3 separate regions of the Homo sapiens genome follow, and all the other regions are linked to region 1. Evidence: fine-mapped expression QTL. A gene starts in region 1. Each other region holds a variant in brackets. All regions are shown on one strand. Distances are from middle to middle.

Region 1 (8,179 bases):
GTGTGTACATATGTATATATACACACGTGTGTACATATGTATATATACACACGTGTGTACATATGTATATATACACACGTGTGTACATATGTATATGTATATACACACGTGTGTATATATGTATATGTATATACACACGTGTGTATATATGTATATGTATATATACACGTGTGTATATATGTATATGTATATATACACATATATGTACATATGTGTATATATGTATATGTATATATACACATATATGTACATATATGTGTATATATACACAGAGAGAAAGATAAAATATAGTTTTAGTAGCTGACAAGTCTAAGCAAAGGGTATATGAGTGTTAATGGTGTATCTTTTAACTTTCTGTAGATTTGAAAAACTTCCCCAAAAATGCTGCGAGAATAATAAGATAGTGCAAAGAAAGTGCTTGGCCAATGGTAAGTGCTCAATAAAGGGTAGATCTTACCCAGAAGTATAAGCCCCATGAGGGCAGGAAATTTTGTTTATTTTATTTAGCACAATATCCACAGCACCTATAACAGTGCCTGGCACATAAGATAGTACTTAACAAACATTTAAAAGACAAATCATGGAGAGGTTGTACATTAGAAATGTAATGTAAAAAAAAATCACTGTAAAAAATGACACCACAGGACAATGCATAGTTGCATGGGACAGCTGTTACCATGGCCTGATATAACAGTGCCAGTTGCTTTGATTAAAGTGACTTCTTGGCAGGGTGCCATGACTCATGCCTGTAATCCCAGCACTTTGGGAGGCTGAAGCGGGAGGATTGCTTGAGCCCAGGAGCTTGGCGGCTGCAGTGAGCTATAATCACACCACTGTACTCCAGGCTGGGCCACAGAGCAAGACTTCAAAAAAAAAAAAAAAAAAAAAAGTCCCAGAAAATCTGTCTGCCCAATTGAGATGAGTTTGGCGATTTATTTACAAGAGTTAATGTTCTCTGAATAGCATCATCATGTTTGGTTAAGCCATTTGGGATTACGGTGGAAAAAAAATTAGCCAGTTTGGGAGCTTCATTTTTTTTCTAGTGCTGATTAAAATTGACATCAACAGACCTCTGGTGGGAGAGGTACTTCGCCCTCTGGTGGTGAGAGACACTCAGCTTTTTTTTTTTTTTTTTGAGACAGAGTCTTGCTCTGTGGCCCAGGCTGGAGTGCAGTGGCGCGATCTCGGCTCACTGCAAACTCCGCCTCCCGGGTTCAAGCAATTCTCCTGCCTCAGCCTCCAGGGCAGCTGGGACTACAGGCGCGCTTCACCCCGCCCAGCTAATTTTTGTGTTTTTGGTAGAGACGGGGTTTCACCATATTGACCAGGCTGGTCTCGAACTCCTGACCTCGTGATCTGCCCGCCTCGGCCTCCAAAAGTGCTGGGATTACAGGCCTGAGCCACCGCGCCTAGCCTCAGCTAGTTTCTACGGAAAAGGCTGGCAGAGCAGAGGTGAAGTGGAAAAGAGTGTCTTTCCACAGAGGTTTCTGGAAACATGTCCCCTTACTTCATGGTCACATGGTATCTGTAAGGACTGAATTTGAGGTTGTCATTTTTGACCCAGTGAATACCCAGCTTTGGTGAATGCCTGGGCCAGGCTAGACTGACAAAGATAGGAACTGAGGAATGGAAAGTGACATTTGCAGTTGGGTCAAAGCTGAGGTGGGAAGATTTGTCCCTAGCATGATGAGTGCCAAGGGAAACCTGGAGGGCCATGTGAACTGTGAAATTAGTCAGGATCCTGTCTCCTCACCGCGACAAGGGTGAGAATATCCATCACCATATGCCTCAGGAAGAGCTCTGGGTGGAATCCCTGGGCTGTGGATTCCCTGGTAAGGCTGGCTGCTGCCCGGACAGCTCACCAATGCCCTGTTTGTATCCCTGGAAATGCCTTTTCTTTTTATGTCTTTTTAAAGTTAATTTCACATATTAGAAGACTTTTTTTTCTTGAATCTAGAAATGATACATAGCTGGTGCAAAAAGTTATGAAAAGTATTGTTATTGAACCAAAGTGAGGGCTGCTTACCTGGTGCAGCAAAGCCACTGACATTGGGATTACAGCAAGAGAAAGTGAGGCATTTATTATTGCACTTGCTGCAGGGTGCCAAGCGAGGAGAATCAAACAGCTTATGCTTAAGACCTGAACTCCCTTATGGCTTACAGGGGTTTTATTTTATTTTTTTGAGACAGAGTCTTGCTCTGTCGCCCAGGCTGGAGTGCAGTGGTGCAATCTCAGCTCACTGCAACCTCTGCCTCCTGGGTTCAAGCGATTCTCCTGCCTCAGCTTCCCGAGTAGCTGGGATTACAGGCACGTGCCACCATGCCTGGCTAATTTTTGTATCTTTAGTAGAGACGGGGTTTTGCCGTTTTGGTCAGGCTGGTCTCGAACTCCTGACCTCAGGTGATCCACCTGCCTCGGCCACCCAAAGTGCTGGGATTATAGGTGTGAGCCACCGCGCCCAGCCGGCTTACAGGTTTTTAATGGCAGGAGGGCAGAGGCCACAGGCGAAGTCATAAATCAATACATAGGGGCTGTATATTGGTTCCACCTAAAAAGACAGGACATCTCCAACCAGGGGCCCACAAGTGGATTCAAAGATTTTCTGACTTGTAATTGGTTAAGGAGGTAAAGCTTTGTCTAAAAATTTGGGATCTGCAGAAAAGAATGTTAGCTCTGACTTATGGTCGTGTCCTCCTCCAGGCCCCCTAGGAAGAAATTTATAACAAAAAATAGAAGTCAAAGTTTAGTTCTCAGCTCTCCCTTATCTGAGTTTGCCTATCAGCAGATCCATTTGGTGGGGGTTCGAGTTTCTAAGAAACAACACTCAGGGACAAATTTTAAGATGTTATATTCAGTTTCTATAGGGAACAAAATATCTCCTGACTGTAACTTCTTTGGCTATTTTTTTTTTTTTTTCTGAGATGGAGTCTCATCCTGTCATCAAACTGGAGTGCAGTGGCGTGATCTCGGCTCACTGTGACCTCTGTCTCCAGGGTTCAAGTGATTCTCCTGCCTCAGCCTCCCAAGTAGCTGGGACTACAGGTGCATGCCACCACGCCCAGCTAATTTTTGCATTTTTAGTAGAGATGGGGTTTCACCATGTTGGCCAGGCTGGTCTCGAACTCCTGACCTCATGATCTGACTACCTCGGCCTCCCAAAGTGCTGGGATTACAGGTGTGAGCCACTGGGATTACAGGTGTGAGCCACTGCACCCGGCTGAGTTTATTTTTGTATAATGTGAGAGATGAGGATCCAGTTTCATTCTTCTGCATGTGGCTTGCCAGTTATCACCAGCTGTTGAATAGGGTGTCCTTTCCCCACTTTATGTTTTTGTTTGCTTTATCGAAGATCAGTTGGCTATAAGTATTTGGTTTTATACTGTGTTCTCTATTCTGTTCCATTGGTCTATGTGCCTATTTTTATACCAGTACCATGCTGTTTGGGTGACTATGGCCTTATTGTATAGATTGAAGTCAGGTAATGTGATGCCTCCAGATTTATTCTTTTTGCTTAGTCTTGCTTTGGACATGCAGGCTCTTTTTTGGTTCCATATGATTTTTAGGATTCTTTTTTCTAGTTCTATGAAGATGGATGGTGAGTCTACTCCTTTTAGATGGGGTGTGAGGATGGTAACCATAGTGCCAGTTCACCTGGGAGAGTCACTTTTATGCCTACCGTCCCGGTGTAATTATTTATTGTGTCTTTTCATTCTTTAAAGTGTTCTGGTTTGAGCAGTAAGTTACAGTCATCTTAGTTATGAGTCACAATCTTCACCATTCCCTGTTACATCACACTTAGCTCTCCTCTTTCATTTTTATTACAGGCCCCCTGCTAGGAAGGGAAAAAGTGTGTGTGTGTTGGGTGGGGGGAGTCAGTGCCATCCTGCCACAGAAGTTAGCTGAAAAAATGAGTATTAGAGACAACATGCTATCTGGTGGATAGAAATTAGGACAGGGTTTTCATCTGACAGAGAATATGATGTCACAATTTACTAATCCCTTTCCCTTCCATTATTTAATTTCACAACAACCTACCCAGTTACACAACTTATCCAGTTTGAGACTGCGTTTCTTTGTGTATGGATCTGCTGTCTTCCCCTGTAACCTGCATTTCGTGATAAAGGATCCCAGGCCGTTCTGCTCACCACTGTATCCCAGACACCCTCCCTTTCCCCTAGACATGGTTTGGTGTCGGGCGCAGAGAAAGCCCCAGGAACTACGATTGATCAGGCTCCCAGAATCTATAGATGGAGTGACCTGACGAGGACACAGGCGCAGTGGCAGAGCGCGATGACTTGGTCGATGTCCGCGGTGAGTCACGTGTAGAGAGAAGCAGGCAGGAAGCGGACTCGAGGGCCTGACTCCTGACCTGAAGCCCAGGATCATTTCTTGGCCAGCTGCCTGCATCCTGCCCAAATCGGCGAGAGAAATGGGAGAATGTGGACCTTGGGAGATTTCGCCGAAATGCTGGGCCCGGGGGCCAGAGAAACCGGCAGTGCAGGAAAGGCCACATCTCTTTTCCCACCTACCCCGCTGCCGCGCAGGACTACAATTCCCAGTAGCCTCCACGCCGCACACGGTCCCTGCCACGCGGCTTGCGCCTCCGCCGACGGCCCACTGGGGGCGCTGCGGCGACCCCTCCGCCGCCCCGTAGAAATCTCCGCGGCCCCGAGGCCGCTTGCTTCCTGTTTGTCCGACGAGGAGACATGGCGGCGGCGCCGGTAGCGGCTGGGTCTGGAGCCGGCCGAGGGAGACGGTCGGCAGCCACAGTGGCGGCTTGGGGCGGATGGGGCGGCCGGCCGCGGCCTGGTAACATTCTGCTGCAGCTGCGGCAGGGCCAGCTGACCGGCCGGGGCCTGGTCCGGGCGGTGCAGGTACGAGGCTGGACCAGGAGGGGCGGGGCGGGGCGGACCAGGCGGGAGCTGGCGGGGGGCCGGGGAAGAGGCCTTTCCAGGCCGCCGCTGGACGGGCCAAAGCCCTTTTGGCTGGCCGGAAGGCCTCCCTGTGAGCTGCCCGGACGCTCTCAGCTGCAGCGGGGCCGTGGGAAGCAGCTGGCTTGATGTCCCTTGTCAGGGGCCGAGCGGGGCTGGGCTGCTGTGGACACTGATGGCGTGTACGAACCCTGGGCCCAGTTTCTGGATCCTCCCTTCTTTGCGCCACGTCTACACGTCTGGGGGACCCTGTCGTGTTTGTTTTAGCCTCTGTGGGCCTCGAGTTTATCCCGTGTATTGGGCGTGGGGGAGGGGGTCATCATTGCAGCCCCCAAATGGTTCCCGAGCATTTCATAAATGTCATTTTCTCAGGCCTTTCCTTGACACTCTTTCCTTCCCCTTTCTAAAGTAGGTCCCCATTGTTATTCTGTCACAGCCGCGAATTCGTTTCGTTTACATTACTTTCTTAGTCTATAATTTCGTATTTCTTTGTTGTCTGCCTTTTTCTCGCCCGTCTCCCACATTAGGCTGAGTTCCAGCGGGTGCAGAGACTATATCTGGTTTGCTAGTGTAGAGCGTCACGGTTAAGAGGGACTCTGGAGTCAGGCCTGGGTTCAAAGCCCTGCTCCTCTCTCTTGCTTGGGCAGGTGACCTTTCTGTGCCTCAGTTTCCTCACTTGTAAGATGAAGATGAGAATTAGTAACCTACCTTTTAAGATTGTTGTGGAGATCAAAGGGGGCAATTGTGTAAAGCATTAGTGCATTTCTGGTGCATACTAAGGGCTGAAGGTAGTTAATATTAAGCATCTGACTTATAACAGGTGCCCAACATATGATTATTGTTATTTTTGAGTGAGCGAAGGACACTGCTTTAGGGTAAACCAGGTTGAATAGGACCTAGTCCACTACTTCTTCCACCCTCCCCCACCCCGAACCTTGCTAACACCTGTAAAACATTAGCTTTATTTAAAGACAGCTTTTTCATAAAAAGTTTGAAGGATACTCAAGAAACTGATAAAGTGGTTGGTGGGAGTGAGGTGGGAATTGGGCTAAAGGGGGAGAAAATGGGAGTGAGACTTTTCACAGTGTAACTTTATTTAAATTTAATTTGAATATCACTTCCTCAAATGACGAAAAGGATAGAATAAAATAAAGGCTAGGGGGTCTGTGTGTATGGAGGACTGTGGACGAAAGGAGCAGTTGTGAGTGAGAAATGTTTTCCTGGCCATCACACAACCATAGATGAGCAGCCTTTTTCCCCCTTGTGTTCTTAAGACCTGACTTAAGACCCTGTAATCCCAGCACTTTGGGAGGCCGAGGCAGGCAGATCGCTTGAATCCAGGAATTCGAGACCAGCCCAGGCAACACGGCAAAATCCTGTGTCTCCAAAAATTTAGCCGGGCATGGTGGTGGTGTGTGCCTGTGGGGAGGCTGAGGTGGGAGGATTACCTGAGCCTGGGAGGCGGAGATTGACAGAGTGAGACCCTGTCTCAAAAAAAAAAAAAAATCCTAGAAATACTTGCTCTTTCCTTCTTAAGCTAAGATACCTTACCGAGCTGGGTGTGTAGAGACAGGCAGAAAGAGGACTAACTTTTAGTGAGCACATAACCTTTAGAAAAAGTACGGTACAAGGCATATGTTATCTTTAATCCTCAAGCTTTTGAGTTATGCTTCAAGACTCATTTCTTAATATGGATGAGGAAACTGAGGCTCAGAGAGGTTAGATGATATGTTCCTAAACACCCATCCTGATAATCAGTGTTCTGAGAATAATAGGGAGCCACAGAAGTTCTTTAGCATGATAAATGAGGCAATTTAGGCAACTTAATTTGTTTCCAGTGCTGAATGACTTAGAATGGGAGGAGCCTAGAAAAGCCCACCAGAGGCTGGGCACAGTGGCTCATTCCTGTAATCCCAGTGCTTTGGGAGGTCGAGGCGGGTGGATCATCTGAGGTCAGGAGTTTGAGACCAGCCTGGCCAACATGGCGAAGCCCCGTCTCTACTAAAAATACAAAAATTAGCCGGGCGTGGTGGTAAGCACCTGTAATCCCAGCTACTCTGGAGGCTGAGGCAGGAGAATTGCTTGAACCTGGGAGGTGGAGGTTGTGAGCTGAGATCACGCCACTGCACTCCAGCCTGGGTGACATAGTGAGACTTCATCTCAAAAAAAAAAAAAAAAAGCTCACCAGATACAAGGCTGCTGGAATATTCTGGAGCCACAAAAGCAAGGCAGGTTATTGTGGTAACTGATGGTTGTATATAGGTGTGGGAGCTATTTCAGAAGTTGAAGTAGAGACCCCCTGCCTGGAGCTATAGTGAGGATAAAATGGGGACCTTCATCTTTCAAATATTTCTTTTCTTAGTTTTTTTTTTTTTTAATTTATTCCATGCTGTGCCCTTCCGCTCCTCTCTCCCATCCTGCAGAATAAGTTATTTGCTTACCCTTTTTTTTTTTTGAGACAGAATCTTGCTCTGTCACCCAGGCTGGAGTGCAGTGGCAAGCTCAACTTCCTGGGCTCAAGTGATCCTCCCACCTTAGCCTCCCTAGTAGCTGGGACTACAGGCGTGTGCCACCACACCCCATTAATTTTTGTATCTTTGGTAGAGACAGGGTTTTGCTCTGTTGCCCAGATTACCCATATTTTTATACTGTTATGGCATGTGGTATAGTAGGAAAAGACCAGATTTAAACATTTTTTATTTTTTATTTTTTAGACGGAGTCTCGCTCTGTTGCCCAGACTGGAGTGCAGTGGCGCAATCTCGGTTCACTGCATCCTCCGTCTCCCGGATTCAAGCAATTCTGCCTCAGCCTCCTGAGTAGCTGGGATTACAGTCGTGTGCCACCACACCTGGCTACTTTTTGTATTTTTAGTAGAGATGGGGTTTCACCATGTCGGTCAGGCTGGTCTCCAACTCCTGACGTCATGATCCCCCTGCCTTGTCCTCCCAAAGTGCTGGGATTACAGGTGTGAGCCACTGCGCCTAGCCAAAATTTTTTCATTGTAGTAAACAAATATATAATATAGGCCAGGTACATTGGCTCATGTGTGTAATCCCAGCACTTTGGGAGACCAAGATGGGATGATCACCTGAGCCAGTTTGAGTCAAGCCTGGGCAGTGTGGTGGAGCCCCAGCTCTACTACAAAAAAAAAAAAAAAAAACATTAACCAGGTGTGGAAATGCATGCCTGTAGTCCCAGCTGCTCAGGAACCCGAGGTGGGAAGATCGCTTGAGCCTGGCAAGTCAA
Region 2 (8,179 bases), 820 kb after region 1:
TGGTGCACGCCTGTAATCCCAGCTCCTCGGGAGGCTGAGGCAGGAGAATCACTTGAACCTGGGATGTAGAAGTTGCAGTGAGCCGAGATCGTGCCACTGCACTCCAGCGTGGGCGTCCGAATGAGACTCTGTCACAAAAAAAAGAACTTTATTCTCGGATCCAAACACTGGAAACCTAGGATTCCGTGTCATCATGGCTCTGTCCTTCTGTCTCTCGGATCTATCTTCATTTCACTTGTAAAATAGACTTGGAACTGGTGAGCTGAGATTGATAGATACCCTTCCCTGTTTAGGAATCCCAGTGGGGTTGGAGCACCTTGTCTCTGCCTGTCATGGAAAATATGTCCTGTGCATAGATCAATTCCAGAGAAGCATTTTGGTTAGCTGCTTGAGTTGAAGAATGAGGAAGGAGATGTGATTGATGGTCCTGTCAAGCCACATGTAGGGGAGGGTGTGGCATGGTTCCCTTTTGAGGGGGGCTGGGCAGCCAAAACAACACATTAACTGAGGCTGGGTGTGAGGATAGAAAGAGTTAACATGAGTACCACACATGGCAGAAACCCTAACAGAACACTTCTGCCTCTATTGGCAGCCAGACGCGTGTAGGGGTCCCAGAAAATGGCACTGATTCCCGGTCTTCCTTTGTTTCTCCCCAGCTGGATGAGGCAGTGGCTGAAGCCCACCTGGGCAAGCTGAATGTGAAGTTGACCAAGCTAACTGAGAAGCAAGCCCAGTACCTGGGCATGTCCTGTGATGGCCCCTTCAAGCCGGATCACTACCGCTACTGAGAGCCAGGTCTGCGTTTCACCCTCCAGCTGCTGTCCTTGCCCAGGCCCCACCTCTCCTCCCTAAGAGCTAATGGCACCAACTTTGTGATTGGTTTGTCAGTGTCCCCCATCGACTCTCTGGGGCTGATCACTTAGTTTTTGGCCTCTGCTGCAGCCGTCATACTGTTCCAAATGTGGCAGCGGGAACAGAGTACCCTCTTCAAGCCCCGGTCATGATGGAGGTCCCAGCCACAGGGAACCATGAGCTCAGTGGTCTTGGAACAGCTCACTAAGTCAGTCCTTCCTTAGCCTGGAAGTCAGTAGTGGAGTCACAAAGCCCATGTGTTTTGCCATCTAGGCCTTCACCTGGTCTGTGGACTTATACCTGTGTGCTTGGTTTACAGGTCCAGTGGTTCTTCAGCCCATGACAGATGAGAAGGGGCTATATTGAAGGGCAAAGAGGAACTGTTGTTTGAATTTTCCTGAGAGCCTGGCTTAGTGCTGGGCCTTCTCTTAAACCTCATTACAATGAGGTTAGTACTTTTAGTCCCTGTTTTACAGGGGTTAGAATAGACTGTTAAGGGGCAACTGAGAAAGAACAGAGAAGTGACAGCTAGGGGTTGAGAGGGGCCAGAAAAACATGAATGCAGGCAGATTTCGTGAAATCTGCCACCACTTTATAACCAGATGGTTCCTTTCACAACCCTGGGTCAAAAAGAGAATAATTTGGCCTATAATGTTAAAAGAAAGCAGGAAGGTGGGTAAATAAAAATCTTGGTGCCTGGAAGAATTTTGAGCCTTTATTTTATAGATAATCCTCTGCCAACAATGTATGCCATGAATAGGGGGTTATAGTCGTGCTGATGAAGCATTCACGGGGTACTCTGCAGTGGAACGGCTGTCTGTGGTCCTTAGGCTTGAAAGAATGGGTAAAGTGAAGAGGGAACTCTTTCGTTTTTTTTTGAGACAGAGTCTCGCTCCGTCACCCAGGCTGGAGTGCAGTGATGCAATCTCAGCTCAATGCAACCTTCGCCTCCTGGGTTCAAGCGATCCTCCTGCCTCAGCCTCCTGAGTAGTTGAGATCACACCCAGCTAATTTTTTTTTGGTATTTTTAGTAGAGACGGGGTTTTACCATGTTAGCCAGGCTGATCTTGAACTCCTGACCTCAAGTGATCTGCCTGGGATTATAGGCGTGAGCCACTGTGCCCGGCTGTTTGCAGTATTTTTAAAAGTGCACTAAGTGGGGACTCACATTAAGTTCTAAAGATACAATGTCAAGTAAAACCCTTAAGTCACACTCAATGGCCCATGATCAGTGAGGCATGAGGGGCTGAAAACTGCTCACTCTGGCTTAGATGCTCATCAGTGTGTCCTGCCTGACAATTAATTCTTACCTTTTCTTTTTCCCTGAGTGCACATAGTTTAAGTTGCATAAGTTACGTGTGTATGTGATGTGACTCTGCTGTAAATAGTGTACAGACTTTGGTACTTCAACTATTATTAGTACCAAATGACAGGGCACCCACTCCCAACTGACCACAACACAAGTGGTCAAAACAGGCTGAGATCTTGCACACTTGGGTGACAGGCATGGTGCAAGCATCTTTTAGAGTTGTTGTTTTTTTTTTTTTTCTAGACAGTCTCGCTCTGTTGCCCAGGCAGCAGAGTGCAGTGGTGCTATCTCAGCTCACTGCAAGCTCCACCTCCCAGGTTCATGCCATTCTTCTGCCTCAGCCTCCCGAGTAGCTGGGACTACAGGCACCCGCCACCACGCCCGGCAAATTTTTTTTTGTATTTTTTTTTAGTAGAGATGGGGTTTCACCATGTTAGCCAGGATGGTCTCGATCTCCTGACCTCGTGATCCACCCGCCTCGGCCACCCAAAGTGCTGGGATTAGAAGCGTGAGCCACCGTGCCTGGCCTTTTTTTTTTTTTTTTTTTTTTTGAGACGGAGTCTCACTCTCGTCGCCCAGGCTAGAGTGCAGTGGCACAATCTCAGCTCACTGCAACCTCTGCCTCCTGAGTTCAAGCAATTCTCCTGCCTCAGCCTCCCAAGTAGCTGGGATTACAGATGCTCATCACCACACCTGGCTAATTTTTGTATTTGTAGTAGAGACAGGGTTTCACCATGTTGGCCAGGCTGGTCTTGAACTCCTAACCTCAGGTGATCTGCCCACCTCAGCTTCCCAAAGTGCTGGGATTACAGGCATGAGCCACCATGCCTGGCCTTAGTGCACTAAGTGGGGACTCACATTAAGTTCTAAAGATATGATGTATCTTTACATCATATGTAAAAAGGTATGGTCTTATTTATTCCTCATAGAGACTTGAATTCCCCTGTCTGAGGCTCTGAGAGGAGCCATAAGCATGAGCTGACTTTTGTATGTGGTAGGACTTAGACCAAAATCCAAGCCCCTTCCACACCAGCAAGGTCAGGTTTAGGAAGGGAGCCTGGATTCAGATTTCCCAACATTAGATCAGGAACTCTGGAACTGTAAACCAGAGGGCTACCCAGAGCCCTGCCTCAGTTCTTCTACTGGGGTGGCTGCTGGGACGATAACTTCACAGTAGAAAAAAGGAGAGGCTGCTGTTCTTCTAAGCCAGAGAGGTTGAACGCCTTCTGCTGCACAGCCGCTGCCTGTGTGTGCGCATGCTCCCTTCCCTCTAGCGTGTCTCCTCCTGGATGTGGGAAATGCTGTCAGAATGCTTCCTCCTGCCAGATCCCATGTAGCCCCCCACCTCCCTTCTTCCAGGAGTTCTGGTTTCTGTTATGCCAGCCTCTTCCTTTCCTGTTCGGAGGTGTCCTGTCAGTTCCCAGAACCTTTTGTTTCAGAAAACACAGCCCCTCTTTTCACATCTGGTCTCAGACTTACCTCTGATTTCAGGTCTGCTAATCTGTCACATGTGTGACACTGACCGGGTACCCACAATGAAAGATGATGTGTCTCCTGCTCCACCCCCAATACCCCAATACTCCACTCCTGATATCTGGGCTGCCCCCATCAAAGCTTCATGGAGAAAGAAGGAATTGGCCAAGGGTCCTGCAGTATCCAGGCCTAGCCCTGGTTGGATTTTTTCCAGGAAAGAGATGGGAAGATGAGGCCTGTGGTTGGTGGAAAGTGGCTGTTTATGGAGCAGTGGACTGAACTTTGGAAAGAGGAGCCCTGGGTCTGCTGCTGACTCACTGTGTTCCCCGCAGGGACAGAAATACCTACTTCAGATGGCTGTCTTGACGCTCGAATGATAGAACATTAGTGAGGAGTTTTTATGCTGAGTTTTTTTTTTTTTTTTTTTTTTTTTGAGATGGAGTCTTGCTCTGTCGCCCAGGCTGGAGTGCAGTGGCGCGATCTCGGCTCACTGCAAGCTCCGCCTCCCAGGTTCA[C/T]GCCATTCTCCTGCCTCAGCCTCCCGAGTAGCTGGGACTACAGGCGCCCGCCACCGTGTCCGGCTAATTTTTTATATTTTTAGTAGAGATGGGGTTTCACCGTGGTTTCGATCTCCTGACCTCGTGATCTGCCTGCTTTGGCCTCCCAAAGTGCTGGGATTACAGGCATGAGCCACTGTGCCCGGCCTTTATGCTGAGTTTTAAGGGCTGTATGAGACACCAGGTGGTGGGAGGGAGCTGTTTTGAGAGCAGGGAATTTAGGATACTTAGGAAATTAGAAAATTAGAGAAGTCATAGGATCTTGGAACTAAGGGAGAACCTTAGAGTCCTGTGGAGCAGAACCCAGCATTTGTATGTGGAGAAACGGAGGCCCAGAGAAGTTGTGACTTATCCGGGTCACTCTGCAGGTCTGGGTGTCCCACCCGAGTCCATGTCAGGGCTCTTTCTGCACACCAAGCCCCATGCCCACCTCTGTGTGACTGGCTGTGGTGGGAGGGGCCTCCTAGGCTAGAGGTGCTGGGATCCCTTTTCAGTCCAGAAATAATGAGCTTAGAGGGTCTGGAAGTAGCATGGACTAAAACCCAGGAAGGATCCACAGGGACTGTTGATGCCAGTGAGGACTCCAGGAAGCCGGATCACGGGGACTGTTGATGCCAGTGAGGACTCCAGGAAGCTGCTGTTGGGACAGCCCTGCTTTGGGAGTCTGAGGTTCCAGGAAACCCCAGGAATCCGGATTCTCATCCCTGAGACCTACTCAGGACTAGCCCAGGGGACCGAGCTAGGAAACCTGCTTGAGGTGGTAGAGGCAGCCAGGGGTGTGCAGTGGTCCGGGCGGGCTTCGATCAGTTCCAGGTTGGTTGCTTCTCCAAACTGGCTCCAAGACAGGCATGTGGCTCAAGTTGGTCTGGACTCAATCCCGGGACTTTAGGACTTTTGCTAGAAATCTGGTGTGGTGCAGGAGCGACTCCAGGATTCACTCTGTGGGCTGCTTGGACTCAGACTCCCCCAGGACTAGAGGCTGCTTCTCCCTGGTGGGAGGAGTTACAACCTTGCAAGGGTTCTAAAGACCCCCGGGTGCTGGGTGGTGGGCTTTTCCTGACAACTTCCATAAGTTATTGGAACCTAAATTCACACTGCTTAGCATCGTAATAGTCTGATCAACCCTGCTCAGTGTTGTCATACTTGCCCTATTACCAGGGAGAGAAATAGAGAGGTGGGTGCCTCCCTAGAGTATCCACCCACACTGTGTACTGAATGCCCCTCCTCAACCTGTCTCTCGTGGGGACCTGCACCTGCTTTTCCTACTAACTGCTGGCTTGTATTTATTCCCCTAAAGCCTGTTCCATAACCCAGTGTGGTTCTTAGACTTGAGCAAACCTCAGAAACACCTGGAGGGCTTATCCCCAGTCCTGATTCTGTAGGTCTGGGGTGAGGCCTTATAGTGTGCATTTTAACAACGTCCCCAGTGTTTCCCAATGCTGCTGGTGCACACCAAGTGTAGAATTTGCCTCTGTGCCTGTTGCACAGTAGGTGGAGGTGGCAACTGTAAAAGAGACCCAGCTATCCTAAAAACAGAAAAGGTACTGTCTTCAGTGGGGCTGCCAGGATTGGAAGGAATGTGAGCCTGTAGCTGCTCCTTTGCCCCCACGAAGGCCAGCTTGCCTTAGGATGAAGCCAACACAGACCGGGTGCAGCAGCTCACACCTGTAATCCCAGCACTTTGGGAGGCCAAGGTGGGCAGATCACCTGAGGTCAGGAGTTTGAGACCAGCCTGGCCAACATAATGAAACCCTAGCTCTACTAAAAAAAAAATAGAATAAAAAAAAAAATTAGCCGGGCATGGTGATGCACGCCTGTAATCCCAGCTACTCAGGAGGCTGAGACAGGAAAATCACTTGAACTGGGAGGTGGCAGTTAGAGTGAGTTGAGATCACACACTGCACTCCAGTCTGGGGGACAGAGCAAGGGCTCATCTCAAAAAAAAAAAAAAGAAAGATATAAAGCCAACACAATTGAGAGAGAGTGACACATTCCAGAGAATATTTGAGTAGCTGAATCTAGACATGTTTTACACTAACTGGATCTAGCCCCTTTTTAGTGAAATGAACCCCCCAGAAAGTTACCTTCTTTCCCTAAACCCATCTCAATAGGTTGCTGTCTGACAATTCTGAGTCTCGCTGTAGTGGAGAAGACATTGAAGACACCAGGTTATAGAAAAACAACAGAGAAAAGAAAACAGAGGGCCGGGTGTGGTGACTCATGCCTGTAATCCCAGCACTTTGGGAGGCCGAGGCAGGCAGATCACCTGAGGTCAGGAGTTCGAGACCAGCCTGGCCAACGTGGTGAAACCCCGTCTCTACTAAAAATACAAAATTAGCCTGGCATGGTGGAGCACACCTGTAATCCCAGCTACTTGGGAGGGTGAGGTAGGAGAATCGCTTGAACCCGTGAGGCGGAGGTTGCAGTGAGCGGAGATCAAGCCACTGCACTCCAGCCTGGGTGACAGAGCGAGACTCCATCTCAAAAAAAAAAAAAAAAAAAGAAAATAGAGAACTTGGGCCAGGTCCCCTCCCAGCTGCACCATGAAGGGGACTGGATTCGCCCCCAAGACTGCCTTGTCCAATCCCTTCATGGTGCAGCTGGGAGGGAATTTTGCCCAAGGTCATACAGCAGTGAGGGGCAGTGCTGGAACAGGAATTTGTACCACCTGACTCTTTTAAAGAGACAAAGTCTCATTTTGTCATCCAGGCTGGAGTATAGTCACATTCATGGCTCACTGCAGCCTTGAACTCCCGAGCTCAAGCGATCCTCCTGCCTCAGCCTCCCAAATAGCTCAGACTACAGGCGCGTGCCACCACACCTGGCTAATTTAATTTAAAATTTTTTTTTGTAGAGATGGGGGCTCGCCATGTTGCCCAGGCTGGTCTCAAACTCCTGGGCTCAAGCAATCCTCCTGCCTCGGCCTCCCAAAGTGCTGGAATTACAGGAGTGAGCCACCATACCCCAGCCCCTCTTGATTCTTTATCAGTGCCCTATCCTGTACCTCTCATGGCCTCTTGAGTAAGTACTGACCCAAGAAAAGAAGATGCAGCTGCTTCTCTCCAGAAGCTCCACTAGTGAGACTACTCCCTGGGGTGGTGTTGACAAGGTCTCATTAGAGAGCTGGGGAGTCACATGGGGAGTCTGTTGGGTACACCTCTTGGGCCGAGTCTCTTGCAAGGTGTTGGCTCTACGCAGGCAGAGTCCCCTCTGCCTGGTTTTCAGTGGCCTGGTGTTTAAGGGCCTAGGCTCTGGAATGACATGGGCTGGATCTGAATCCCCATGCTGAGGTGTGAGGTCTATCTAGACACATTGCTTAACATCTTTGAGCCCCAGTTCTCTTATTTACAGTGATACTTAGGTCAAGACGTTAATTTGATAGTCTTGGTGTCATGCCTGGCATGAAGTAGCTGCTCAATAAATAATCACTGTTAGTATGGCACTATGATAACTGCAGACCACACAGGCCTCGAGCAGTGAGCAGCAGCCCAATATTTACTATTGCTCTGGTAGTCTATACAGCCATAGAGTCCACGAATTCTAAAGAGGAGCTCTGGAAAGTGTGAAAGCCTCTGGACTCCAATGAAGCTATTTGCTGGGCTCCCCAGGCAAAAAGAAGGCATAATAATTGTCAATATCATCATTCTCACCATTAGAAGGTGCCACCTCCCAGACTCTACAACTCGTATATCCAGCTGGGAGAGCTTCTATTTCTCTGCAGGCAATCAATTAATAGAAACCTCCTTTCTGTAATGAACATGAAAGCATTTGACAGTTTTAAAGGATTTTACCAATTAAACAAAAGTCATTCCTTTTCCTCCTTCCTGAACCCAATACCCGCTCCCAACATACACACCTTCTACTCCTGGTACATGGAAGAAGAAAGGGTAACTCGTCTACTCTAGACTCATCTTAAATTGACTACAGATGGTTTGGCTAATTCAGTTCAAATTAAATTCTTTTCTTGCCTATCCTGTCCTCTTCGCAAATG
Region 3 (8,179 bases), 36 kb after region 1:
CTAAGTGTTTTTACTGTTTTTGATGCTCCTTTAAATGGAATTGTTTTCATAATTCCAGTTTTTTTTGCTTCTTGCTACAATTTTAGAAATACAGTTGATTTATGTATATTGATCACATATCGTGAAATCTTGCTGAACTCTTGCTTATTGGCTCTAATAGTTTTTTTGAGTGGATTCTTTAGGAATTTTCTGTATTCTAGATTGTGACATCTGTAAATAGTTAGTTTTACTTATTCCTTTCCAATTTGGGTGCCTTTAATTTCTTTTTTTATTTTTCTCTAGTTGCCTTAGAACACTCAGTACAATGTTAAATTGAAGTGGCGAGAGTGGACATCTTTGTCTTTTTCCTCATCTTAATGGGAAAGCATTTAGTCTTCACTGTTAAGCGTGATGCTAGCTGTGGGTTTTTTAATAAAAGCCCTTTATCAGGCTGAAGAAGTTCTCTTCTATTCCTTGTTGATTGTTTTATCATGAAAGTGTTTTGGGTTTTTTTTTCCAAACGCTTTTTCTGCATCTGTTGAGATGACCGTGTGGCTTTTGGCTTTTGTCCTTTATTCTATTGATATGGTGTATTATATTGATTTTCATATGTTGAACCAACCTTACATTCCTGGGATAAATTCCACTTTGTCATAGTGTCATGGTGTATAATCCTTTTCTTGTTTTTTTTTTTTTTTTTTTTTTTTTGGAGACAAGGTCTCTCTGTCACCCAGGCTGGAATGCAGTGGTGTGATCACAGCTCACTGCAGCCTCTCCTGGGCTCAAGCGAGCCTCCTATCTCGGCCTCCTGAGTAGCTGGGACTACAGGAGCATGCTACCATGCTTGGCTAATTTTTGGTTTTAATTTTTGTAGAGACAGGGTCTCACTATGTTGCCCAGGCTGGTTGCATACTCTTGGGCTTAAGTAGTCCTCCTGCCTTGACGTCTCAAAGTGCTGGGATTACAGGCATAAGCCATCATGCGTGGAGTATAATCCTTTTTGTATGTGTCTGGATTTTGTTTGCTAGGGTTTTCAGGATTTTTGTGTATATATGCATGAGATACTCATCTGTAGTTTTCTTGTGATGTCTTTGTTTGGTTTTGGTATCAGGGTAATACTCGCCTCAAAGAATGAGTTGGGAAATGTTTCCTTCTCTTCTGTTTTTTGGAAGAGTTTGTGAAGAATTGATCATTCTTTAAATGTCTTGTATTGTTCACCAATGGAGCCATCATGTCCAAGGTTTTTCTTTATGGGTAGTTTTTTGTTATTGTTGTTTTTGTTTGTTTTTTTTTAAATCACTAAGTCAGTCTCTACTTGTTATAGGGCTGTTCAGATGTTCTGTTTTTTCTTCTTCTTCGTCTTCTTCGTCTTTGTCTTCTTCGTCTTCGTCTTCTTCATCTTCATCTTTGTCTTCGTCTTTTCTTCATCTTTTCTTCATCTTCATCTTCGTCTTCTTTGTCTTCATCTTCTTCGTCTTCATCTTTGTCTTCGTCTTCGCCTTCTTCTTCATCTTCTTTGTCTTCGTCGTCTTCTTCGTCTTCTTCTTCTTCGTCGTAGTCTTCTTCCTCTTCTTCTTCTTCTTATTTCTTCTTCTTTCTTCTTCTTCCTTCTTCTTCTTCTTTTTTTTCTTTTAAAGAGATGGAGTCTCACCCTGCCATCCAGGCTGGAGTGTATTGGCATGATCATAGCTCACTGCAGCCTCAACCTTCTGGGCTCAAGTAATCCTCCTGCCTCAGTCTCCCAAGTAGCTGGAACTATAGGCGTACCACCACGCCCAGCTAATTTATTTTATTTGTAGAGACATGGGGTCTTGCTGTGTTGGCCAGGGTGGTCTCAATCTTCTGGCTTCAATCAGTCCTCCCACCTCAGCCGCCCAGAGTCTTGGGATTACAGGCATGAACAACCATGCTCAGCCTCTGTTTCTTCTTAAGTCAGTTTTTAGTTTTATGTCTTTCTAGGAATGTGTCCATTTCGTCTAGGTCATCTAATTTGTTGGCATACAGTTGTTCATAGTAGTTCCTTATAATCACTTTTGTTGCCATAAGGTTGGTGGTAATGCCCTCTCCTTTATTTCTGAGTATAGTAATCTGTATCCTCTCTCCTTTTTTCTTGGTCAGTCTAGTTAAGAATTTGCCAGTCTTCAAAGAGCCAGCTTTTGGTTTTGTTCATTTTCTGTTATTTTCTATTCTCTGTTTCATTTGTTTCAACTCTTATTCTCCCTTTTGCTTGCTTTGGGTTTAGTCTGCTCTTTTTCCAGTGTCTTAAGGTAGAAGATTAGGTTATCGATTAGAAACAATTTTCTTTGGCCGGGTGCGGTGGCTCATGCCTGTAATCCCAGCACTTTGGGAGGTCAAGGTGGGCAGATCACCTGAGGTCAGGAGTTCAAGACCAGCCTGGCCAACATGGCAAAACCTCGTTTCTACTAAAAATACACAAAGTAGCCAGGAGTGGTGGCAGGCACCTGTAATCCCTGCTACTCTGAGGCTGAGGCAGGAGAATCGCTTGAACCCAGGAGGCGGAGGTTGCAGTGAGCCGAGATAGGGCTATTGCACTCCAGCCTGGGAGACAAAGCAAGACTCTGTCTCAAAAAAAAAAAAAAAAAAAAGAATTTTCTTTTAATATAGGCATTTACAGCTATAAATTTCCCTCTGAGCACTCCATTAGCTACATCATAAGTTTTGGTATTTTCATCCTTCTTGGATACTTTATACTTCCCCTTGTGGTTTCTTCTTTGGCCCATTATTATTTAGGATGGGTTTTTAAAATTATCCATATAATTCATGAATTTCCCAAATTTCGTTCTGATTTTAATTTCATTCCATTGTGGCCACACAACATACTGTATGTGATTTAAGTGCTTTTAAATTTATTGAGGCTTGTTCAGTGGCCTGAAATTTGATCTGTCCTGGAGAATGTTTCATGTGCACTTGAGTAGAATGTATACTCTGTTCTTGCTGCATGGAGTGTTCTGTAGATGTCTGTTAGAATATATGTGTTCGTTGTGTTCAAGTCTTCTATTTCTTTGCTCGTCTGCCTAGTTGTCTATTATTGAAAGCAGAGTTATTAACGTGTCCAACTTTTATTTTTAAATTATCTGTTTCCTTCATTTCTGCCAGCTTTTGTTTCATGTATTTTTGGGCTCTATTGTTAGGTACATACATATTTGTAGTTGTTATATCTTTCTAATGGATTGACCCTTTTATCAACTATCCTTTCTCTCCGTAGAATGAATTTTTAAATACATGCTTATTTTAAACAGTTTGTGCAAAATTGTATTAAAGTATGTAAAATAAAAAACACATGCATATAACCCCCAAACCTGTAGAAATCAGTGTTAACAATTTATGGTGTATCTTTTGAGTCCTTTTAAAATAAACTTACAAATGTTCTTTAAACAGAAGAATCATAGTAATAATGTTCTGCAGCTTTTCAGAAATTAAAGCCGCATTAGATCCCAGAGATTACCTAATCTAAAATACTTCTTTTCAAAAATGAGAAAGCTGAGGCCAGAGAAGGGCAAGTAGGTGGCCAAGCTGGGACTAGAACCTGGGTCTCCTGACTTGCTGCAGTCAGGAGCCTTACTGAACCTTAACTGCCTCCTGGAACAAAAGGGTCTTGTAATACTGTGACAGATACATGGGCCATGAATGGTTATGGCAAAATCATTTTATAAGTTATACTTTGAATTAATTTTGAAGATTTTATCTAATTTTTTTTATAGCTTCTTGTAGAAATTCTTATGAGGCCTACGATCTCTATCCGGGGACAGAAACTGAAAAGTAAGTATACCTATTAGCTACTGGTCCTTGTTTTCCAACCTGCCGATACGGTGGCAGTTCCCAGCAGCTGCCTTCTTCCTTCCCTTCCTAACTCTTAATAGTAAGGACATGTCTTACATTTAGCTACAGGTTGCTCTCTCCTCCCCCAGCTAAGCAGCTGTCTTTATTCATTCTGTACTGCGTAGAAATTCAGATCTGGGTTAAGAGAATGCATCTTTGTACTTTTGATAGTCCTGTGATCCAGCTTCTATGTTTCCTTGGGAAATTCTTCTTTCTCACATATAACTAGCTGAGAGAGTAAGATCACTCTGTTTTATTTTTTTTAAACTATTTTTTTTAGAAAGGTGATACATGCTCTTTGTAAAAAGTTCAGGCATTACCAGGGTGTGAATGGTAAAAAGTCAGAGTGTTTTGGTATGCACTATTTCTTAAGCTGGGTGGTAGATATATGGGTAATATTCTATTATTATTTTTTATAACTTACACGTTACAAATAATTCTTTTTAGGTATTCAATTTTTTTTTTTTT[G/TTTTTTTTTTG]AGACAGTCTCTCGCTCTGTTGCCCAGGCTGGAGTGCAGTGGCATGATCTTGGCTCACTGCAACCTCCGCCTCCTGAGCTCAAGTGATTTTCCTGCCTCACCCTCTCAAGTAGCTGGGATTACAGGCGCCCACCACCATACCCGGCTAATTTTTGTATTTTTTTTTTTAGTAGAGATGGGGTTTCACCATGTTGACCAGGCTGGTCTCGAACTCCTGACCTCAAGTGATCTGCCCACCTCAGCCTCCCAAGTGCTGGGATTACAGGCATGAGCCACCGCACCCAGCTTCGGTATTTAATTTAAAATAAAAAAGTGAATGCACTTTACTCTGGTGTTAAAAGCCAGAGATGACTTCAGTTAATGTTTGGTGAATGCCCTCCTACCAACTTTGCGTTTTTTTAATTTAAAAGATTTTTTTTTTACCCCAATACGACATACTGTATAAGGCCTCATTTGTGCATGCAGTAGTGGTTATTAAGAGGATTTATATTCATTTTTAATGTCTCAGCTGTGTATTCTAACTTGGTCTTTCATGTTCTCTATGTACCCTCATAGCAAGTAGCATATTGTAATTATTTGTTGGTGCACTTGTTTAGTCTCTCTTCTTCCCACTAGATTTATAGGTTCCATGAAGGCTGAGACTTTTTTTCCCTCACCACTGTATCTGCTCTAGAGTAGATGCTGAACAATACTTGATGAATGAGTGAATCCCAATTCCTTTTAAAAATGGAGGATCTAGAAATAGTGAGATATATAGTGAGACATGCAGAGCAGTGTTTCACCCTGCTCTGAAGTCGTTAAATAAATCAATCACAGAGCCCCAGTAGGTTGAAAGGTGGTGATAAGGGATGCAGAGCGTCTGCGTTGTCTCAGGATTATGAGACAACCCATCTAGTCAAGCTAGCTTGGCAGGGCTGCCCATTGGGATCTGAGAAGGAGACCTAGCATTTTAGCATTCCTAGCAGCTTAGGAGTGAATGGAAACAATTTTAAAAAATAGAAGCAAGTGCCAAATAAAGCACTTTGTCCATGGTTCATACTCAGTTTCATCATCTTTTGGTTTTGGGCTCATGAAAATTAAGTTTCGTTTTTATGCTACTTTCCTGTTCCTGCTCACAGGGAAGTAGTAGTTTCTTTATAAGAATTAGTAATAGATCAGACATTAAGAGCCATTTGCCCAACACAGATAACAGCAACAAAAAAAGAAATGCTCAGTTAATGAGTCTGATAAAAATGGTATTTTTGTTTGCTGCAGTAGAACTTTCAATGGAAATTTATAACAAGAGCAATTGAGATGCTTATACTTTTAACTTTTAGCCAGGCGTGGTACACGCGCATGCAGTCCTAGCCACTCGGGAGGGTGAGGAGGGAAAATTGCTTGAGCCTAGGAGTTCGAGACTACAGTGAGCTGTGATTGTGCCCCTGAGTGACAGAGTAAGACCTCATTTAAAAAACCAAAACAAATGAACAAAAAAAAGATGCCTATACTTTAGATTCTAGTAGTTCTACTTTTGAAAATGTATCTTGAGGAACTAGTTTAATACAAACATGAAAAGGATACACATATATATTAAGTTGTTCATTTGTGGTCTACTTAAATAGCCAAAAAACACAAAAAACAAAAAAAACAAATCCTAGATATATCCTAAGCAAGACATTAAGGGAAAATGGCTTTATTAAATGATGGCACAACAACAGGTTGAAATTATGAAGACTGTGGAGCATAATAAGAAAACAGCTGCTGTATCAAACCAAAAGCAATATGCAAATGGGCTTGTAGGTTCTGATGGGCACTATGAAAACCTTTGGTAGACAGGGGCTGGAAGAAGTATATTAAAGGAAAAATAATCATCTTGGAGGGGATTATAACAGTTCTTATGCTGAAAAAAATGTGGTAACTGTTGTACTATCTTTTCATTGAGAAAAATAACCAGTCATTACCCTTTCACTTTCAGTAAGTGATGAAATGTCCAAGGACTGCTTGAGTATCCTGTATAATACCTGTGTCTGTGTAAGTACCCCTGCCACTGGGGCTCTGTTTATCTCCCCTACCAGGTCTGCAATGTTTAAGATGGGAATATTCGAGTAGAATGGCAGACATAAGAGCTGCTTTCAGACAGTGGGGGAATCGGGCTTATTTTATGTGTGCCTGAAAATCAGGACTAACTGGTAGAAATTACGGGGAGGCAGAATTTTGTAGCAGTTGTTAAGAGCCAGGACTGCTGCAGCAGGTAGTAAACTCCTTTGGCCTTAGAGCTGTCCAAGTAGAAACTGGACACTTGTCAAAAGGTGACAAGTGTTGGCAGACTGTGACCTTTAAGACTCATTTTAACTCCATTATGCCTATTTCTTCATTTTCCTTGTTAGAAAACAAAATGAGAACCAGAAGCCCCGCCCATATATTGAGCAGGACTCTACTAGGTTGACCACTGAGCCAGGAAGAATGGTGAATAAAGAAAGCAATCTGGTAGAAACAAAAGAGGATGGCACTTAGTGTTAGGACCTGATTTTGTGTTCTGGCCCTTGGCTTAGTACACCTCCCAAGCCGTAGTTTCTTACCAATAGAATGCAGTTAGCAGTTGTATTAACATCATAGATTTATTGTGAGAAATGAGATAGTAGATGTGAAAACACTTTGTAAAACAATATATAAATGTTAGTTTTTAAAAGATACAGTACCTGTCTTTTAGAAACTTATGATAAACTGTGTAAACTGTGAATCATAATACATGGCAGAATGAGACGAGCGCTATTATAAATGTGAACCCTGTATGCTGTGGAAATAAAAAAAAAAAAACATTTAGCTCCATTTCATTTCTTGCCTCATTCAAAATAAGATTTCTGACATCTTGTGGGTGTATGCAAAATCTACCAAGATCACGAACTTAGAAGCAGGTAAGAAAGAAGAAGATAAAGGTGGGGACATAACGTATAGCCAGGAATTGGGCTGATATAAAAATGAAGACCATAAAATCATCTGTATTACGGATGGGCACAAATTTGGCTTCAAGCTTCTTAGCAGCCAACACAAATAGGGGAATATGTTTGAACACTTACGTAATTCAGCATCTATAATAGTGCTGTGCAATTGAAATATAATGCAAGCCACTTGGGTTATTTTAAATTTCCTTGTAGCCACATTTTTTTAAAGAAAAAAGTAGGAAGAAGTGGTGAAGTTAATTTTAATGATAAATTCTGTTTAACACAGTGTATCAAGAATATTGTCATTCTAACATGTAATCAGTATAATTAATTATTAATGAGATATTTACTTGTTTTTCGTATTGAGCTCTCAAAATCCAATGTGTGTGTGTGTTTTGTTTTTCTTTCCTCTTGTTTGAACACCCAGAGCACATCTTAGTTTGGCCTGGCCACCTTTTAAGTGCTCGGTAGCCATGTATAGCCAATGACAGAGATAGGCACAGGGAGATCTATAAGATAAAATTTCAAATTGTTCAGGAAATGCACAGTTCTTGCAACTAAGGCCAATAAGAAATTGTCCTTATAGAAGAAGACAGTGTATAATATAATGACTCCATCTTTGGCAACTCCATATAGTCACTAGTTTTATGAGGCCGTTTTAAAATCATGATACCTAATGTTAATCAGTGACATTCCAATAAAACAGTTAAGTTAAAAAAATGAAATGTATGAAGAGAAGTTGATTAATGGGTACAAATATATGGGATGATAAATAAGACCTAGTGTTAGATAAATCAGTAAGGGTGACTTAGTTTATAATATTCTGTTCTGTTTTACATTTCAAAATAGCTAGAAGAGAATTTGAATGGTTCTTAGCATAAAGAAAAGACAAGTATTTAAGCTGATGGCTATCCCAAGTACATTGATTTGATTTTTATAAATTATACGAATGTATTAAATTATATGCTCCC

What was found. PIP is the estimated chance that this variant, and not a neighbour inherited with it, causes the effect.
Region 2: its variant is fine-mapped to the expression of TRPC4AP in whole blood (TOPMed, PIP above 0.99).
Region 3: its variant is fine-mapped to the expression of TRPC4AP in whole blood (INTERVAL, PIP above 0.99).

What each region holds. Positions count from the first base shown.
Region 1 is chr20:35,089,310-35,097,488 of GRCh38, reverse strand. It overlaps TRPC4AP (transient receptor potential cation channel subfamily C member 4 associated protein), which reads left to right and starts at 4,682. Exons shown (of 19, transcript NM_015638.3): 1 at 4,682-4,875. The coding sequence starts at 4,708. RefSeq lists silencers at 1,018-1,147, 4,781-4,910 and an enhancer at 6,437-6,996.
Region 2 is chr20:34,273,643-34,281,821 of GRCh38, reverse strand. It overlaps AHCY (adenosylhomocysteinase), which reads left to right. Exons shown (of 10, transcript NM_000687.4): 10 at 657-1,554. The coding sequence ends at 788. Among named protein-coding and RNA genes, the nearest start is that of AHCY, 26 kb to the left of the region's middle. The variant C/T (reference allele first, on the strand shown) is at 4,150.
Region 3 is chr20:35,053,094-35,061,272 of GRCh38, reverse strand. It overlaps TRPC4AP (transient receptor potential cation channel subfamily C member 4 associated protein), which reads left to right. Exons shown (of 19, transcript NM_015638.3): 4 at 3,702-3,759; 5 at 6,242-6,297. Among named protein-coding and RNA genes, the nearest start is that of TRPC4AP, 36 kb to the left of the region's middle. RefSeq lists an enhancer at 5,276-5,385. The variant G/TTTTTTTTTTG (reference allele first, on the strand shown) is at 4,288.